2 separate regions of the Homo sapiens genome follow, and region 1 is linked to region 2. The links come from fine-mapping of genetic effects on gene expression. Tissue or cell type: whole blood. Region 2 holds a variant in brackets; the other region holds the start of a gene. All regions are shown on one strand. Distances are between the middles of the regions.

Region 1 (2,769 bases), 88 kb after region 2:
ACCATCCTGGGCAACATGGCAAAACCCCATCTCTACAAATAATACAAAAAATTAGTAGAGCATGGTTGTGTATGCCTATAGTCTCAACTACTTGGGGGGGCCAGGCAGGAGTTTGTGACCAGACTGGTTGACAAAGTGAGACACTGTCTCAAAAAAAAAAAAAAAGAAGAAGAAGAAGAAGAAAGAAAAAGAAGAGCTGGTACCATTTCCATACATCTTCTGAAGTCTAGGCAGGGGGTCTCAAACCTCAGTTCTTGACTTCTGGGCACCCACAGGCTCAAGACCACATGGAAGCTACCAAGGCTTGGTGCTTCCACCCTTTGAAGCAACAGCCCAAGCTGTACCATGGCCCCTTTTAGTCAGGGCTGGAGTGGCTGGGACACAGGGCACCAAGTCCCTAGACTGCACACAGCACAGGGACCATGGGGCTGGCCCACGAGAGCATTTTCTCCTAGGCCTCTGGGCCTGTAATGGGAGGGGCCGCCATGAAGACCTCTGATATGCCTTGGAGACATTTTTCCCATTGTCTTGGGGATTAACATTTGGCTCCTCATTACTTATGCAAATTTCTACAGCCAGCTTCAATTTCTCCTCAGGAAACCGGTTTTCTTTTTCTATCAAATTATCAGGTTGCAAATTTCCCGAATTTTTATGCTCTGCTTCCCTTATAAAACTGAATGCCTTTAACAGCACACAAGTCACCTCTTGAATGCTTTGCTGCTTAGAAATTTCTTCAGTCAGATACCCTAAATCATCTCTCTCAAGTTCAAAGTTCCACAGATTTCTTGGGCAGGGGCAAAATACCACCAGTCTCTTTGCCAAAACATAACAAGAGTCACCTTTGTTCCAGTTCCCAACAAGTTCCTCATCTCTATCTGAAACAGCCTCGGCCAAGACCTTATTGTCCATATTGCTATCAGGCTTTTGGTCAAAGCCATTCAACAAGTCTCTAAGAAGTTCCAAACCTTCCCACATTTTCCTGTCTTTTTCTGAGCCCTCCAAACCATTCCAGCCTCTGCCTGTTACCGAGTTCCAAAGTCACTTCCACATTTTCAGGTATCTTTTCAGCAGCACACCACTCTACTGCTACCAATTTACTCTATTAGTCCATTTTCTTGCTGCTGATAAAGACATACACAAGACTGGGCAATTTACAAAAGAAAGAGGTTTATTGGACTTACAGTTCCACATAGCTGGGGAGGCTTCACAATTATGGCAGAAGGCAAGGAGCAGCAAATCACATCTTACATGGATGGCAGCAGGCAAAAAAAAAAAAATGACCCTGTTCAGGAAAATTCCTGTTTTTAAAACTGTCAAATCTCGTAAGACCCATCACTATCATGAGAACAGTATGGGAAATACCCACCCCCATGATTTGATTATCTCCCACTGGGTCCCTCCCACAATACATGGGAATTATAGGAGCTATAAGATGAGATTTGGGTGGAGGCACAGAGACAAACCATATCACATGGAATCAACCTATATGTCCACCAACAGTAGACTGGATGAAGAAAATGTGATCAATATACACCATGGAATACTATGCAGTAATAAAAAAGAAAGAGATATGTCCTTTGCAAGAACACAGATGGAACTGGAGGCCACTATCCTTAGCAAACTAATACAGGAACAGAAAACCAAATACTGCCTGTTCTCATTTATAAGTGGGAGCTAAATGATGAGAACACATGGACACACAGAGAGGAACAACACACACTGGGGCCTTTCAGAGGCTGGAGGGTGGGAGAAGGAAGACAATCAGGAAAAATAACTAATAATTAAATAACTAATGGGTATTAGGCTTAAGATCTGGGTGACAAAATCTGTACAACAAACTCCCATGACACAAGTTTACCTATGTAACAAACCTGCATTTATACCCCTGGACTTAAAATAAAACTTTTAAAAAATAAACAAATGATAATAGCAGATTATAGCCCATTAAATAAACTAGGAATTCATGAGTTCAAATTACATAAACAAACAAATAATTATTCCTTACATAAGAATGCTAATTACTGTATGCAGAAGGAAAGGTAGAATTGGAAGGTCATTATTTGGCAACTATTATAGTAGTAGTTGATTGAAGAAGAAAGCATCAAATGATGCTGAATCTGAGTGAAGGTTTGATGACAACCAACATGGTCTCAAATTATCTCCCCACAAAGTGCTGTTAACTGCAAAGGGGAGATGAGTTACTTTGCAGTCATAAATGTTGTATCACTGGGCACAGTGGCTCATGCTTATAATCCTAGCATGTGGGAAGCTGAGGTAGGCTATTTTCTTTTAGTAATTTCATGGCTTGTGGTCTTAGATTTAAGTCTTTAATCAATTTTAATTTGACTTTTGTATATGGCAAGAGATAGGGGTCTAGTTTCATTCTTCTGCCTATGGATATCCAGTTTTCCAAGCCCCACTTATTGAAGAGACTGCCTTTTCTCCAACATATATTCTCGGTACCTTTGTTGAAAACAAGTTTACTGTAGATGTATGAGTTTGTTTCTGGGTTCTCTATTGTGTTTCATTAGTCTATGTGTCTGTTTTTATGCCAGTACTATGCTGTTTTGGTTACTGTAGCCCTGTAGTATAATGTAAATGACAAGTTAACCAGTGCAGCACACCAACATGGCACATGTATACATATGTAACAAACCTGCACATTGTGCACATGTACCCTAGAACTTAAAGTATAACAAAAAAAAAGAAAAGAAAAGAAAGGAACAGAGGAAAAGGAGGAAGGAAGGAAGGAAGAAAGGAAGGAAGGAA
Region 2 (2,769 bases):
CTTTAACTTATCATGCACCTATTTTGTGCTATTATATATATTCAGTATCTTGCATATAACCTTATTTAAAGAGTATAGCATCATTGTAAAGCAGATACATTAAGGTGTCTGTTTTACAGATGAAGAAATCGAGGTTCAGCAAGGACTTGCTCAAAGTCACACAACTGGCAAGTGACAGAGACTGGATATGAACTGAGTCAGACTCCAAATTTTGACTCAAAAAAGACACTACCTTTGTGCTCTATAAAGTGCATTCATTAGGGCCTTTATCATGCCAGTCTGTCAGCAATTGTGTTCCCCCTGGCTCGGAGCCTTTCCTCCACACTTCAATCAAATAGAAATCCCTCATTGCAGTTGAGAACTAAGTGGAGTTACTGGCCCAAAGCATTCAGGTTAGCTCTATGGATAGTTTCCAAGTTGACCAAATCGTAACTGACCTGTTGAGAGACACAGGTGATTCAGGAGATAATTTTTTTCATACTATACTGGGAGGTGAATGGTAAAAAATACCATAGGATGAGGGAAACAAGGGGAAAATGAACAAAAACGATATCCATTATAACTACATAAAAAGAAACTGGCACACCAAACATCAGTGTTATTATGAAGAACTATTCACCATCTGAATCTGACCACAGTTAGAAAACCTGCCACATCACAAGCGCCTTGGATAATAAAAACATCTATTTCAAATGTTTTCCTAAAAAGCATTTTGAAAGAATAAATAAGATTTCAAAATAGAAAAAAAAATCTAACTGCATAAACTGAACACAATGCTGAATGCTATCCTCATCCAAACTGTCTTTCCTTTATCTTACTTATCACCTTCAATATACAATAAAAGTTCAGCCACAAAATCAGCTTAGAAAGGAGAATTACCTGGCCTAACTGCATAGATTGATTTGATAGTGAGATACTTTCCTGCAAAGACATTTATGTGTTATCTGGAAGAACTTTTAGCTCTTCATTTTAAGTTTTACCAGCGATTGATTTATTATAGGAAAAAGATTCAATTTTTCCTCTTATGCTCAGCAATGTGATTTTTTTAAGAAACAACAAGGCGAGCATGAGAGTTCGTGTCTGTAATCCCAGCACTTTGGGAGGCTGAAGTGGGTGAACCACTTGAGCCCAGGAGTTAAAGATCAGCTTGGGCAACATGGTGAAACCCCATCTCTACAAAACACTTAGCTAGGGGTGGTGGCACATGCCTGTCATCCCAGCTACTTGAGAGGCTGAGGTGAGAGGATCATCTGAGCCCAGAAGATCAAGGCTGCAGTGAGCCATGATTGTGCCACTGCACTCCAGCCTGGGTGACAGAGATAAGAGCCTGTCTCAAAAGAAAAAAGACAGGTTCAGTTCAAATAGGAAATCAGCATCTGTGGTTTCAGCTGGATTTCCCAAGTTACAGGGTTCACCTTCTGAATATGCTGCTATTCTTCCTCTTTTTGACGTTTCTGCACTTCCTAAGATCTCTAGCCCATAATCTTGCTCTAGAGACTACCATCTTTGAAACCTAACTCTCTCGTACTCTTACATACATTTTTGGTTTAGATGCTCATTGCCTAACTCTCAAACTAGAACTCTTGTTCTTCTTGAGCAAGAAATCTTTTCCTTCCTATTTACTTTTGTTTTTCCAAAAGCTGGCACAAAATTAGCACTTAAAAATAACTTTTG[G/A]CTAGCTGACTATTTCAAGAGTTCCAAATGACTTGGACGGAGACACAATTTTAAGTCATCAAAGGTCCATGACAACATATAAACATTGGACTGTTTCAAGATGGAGGTCTGACTGGTGGTTTTTCTTCCCTTTTTTGGTGCAATAGAATTTATATATTTAAACATTAGGTCAGTTACCTAAAATAAGTTAAACATTAGACCAGTAACCTAGAAAGAAAACTTGTTTTGAGGTTGCTAGTAATTTGGGTTCCAAGTTTAATGAGCCAATAAATCAAATGCTAAAGAACAAGATGATTGAATTTGAGAAGACAGTAGAAATAAGGATGTACCCCTTAGAGAAACAAAGAGTTCCCCTAGATAAACAGAAGAAATGGACAAGGAGCAATAGAAATGGGGCAGTGAGTACAAGGCAACCTACAAAGTCTGGAAGTAGTCCTTAGGAAGTTGTTCAAGGAAGGTAAAGGGCCACAGCCTGATAGGAGTTGAAAGAGTAACTGACAAAGGACCATTAAGCCCAGAAGCTGACTAGAAAGTGAGTTGCTCAGGCAGAATGCCCAGCCCTTACTCTCAGCAAGAATGTCCCATTTTGTGTGCCCAGCAATGACACCAATTGTTCTTATTGACCTACATGCTCAGAACTTCACTTCGTTATCATCCAGCACCTCAACCACTGATTGCCCTGTGTGGACTATTTTCCTTAAACCTCATCAGCTTGTGCTAATGTACTCCAAGAAAGGGAGGTGGGACTGTGGACATCTGGTGGGTAAGGAAAATTATCAGCATATCTGGCAGGTAGGAAGAATTATTGGTACATCTGTACTGTGTGGGATGAAATGAACAAAGGGTGGTAAGATCCCTACTCTACTGGCATCAAAAACAGTTGAACCATCTATTCTCAAGTGTGGAATCCTTGAGGCTTTCAATGTAACAATGTCTTTGCAACTTCCTAGTGAGGCTACTCATCAAACATGGTAGTTTAAATATACCTGCTTTATTCTATTCCATCCTAAAATATCACCAGAATAATAACAGAATAGTAAAGGGGATAACAACAGATAAGAGATATTATAATTTTGGAAGACAGAAAGTAGATGG

Evidence for each region. PIP is the estimated chance that this variant, and not a neighbour inherited with it, causes the effect.
Region 1: LINC00639 starts here. The variant in region 2 is fine-mapped to the expression of LINC00639 in whole blood (TOPMed, PIP above 0.99).

Annotation. Positions count from the first base shown.
Region 1 is chr14:38,915,601-38,918,369 of GRCh38, forward strand. It overlaps LINC00639 (long intergenic non-protein coding RNA 639), which reads right to left and starts at 1,282. Exons shown (of 5, transcript NR_039982.1): 1 at 1,182-1,282. The region is part of intron 4 of LOC105370457 (a long non-coding RNA gene); the gene reads left to right.
Region 2 is chr14:38,827,237-38,830,005 of GRCh38, forward strand. The region is part of intron 4 of LINC00639 (long intergenic non-protein coding RNA 639); the gene reads right to left. Among named protein-coding and RNA genes, the nearest start is that of LINC00639, 88 kb to the right of the region's middle. The variant G/A (reference allele first, on the strand shown) is at 1,675.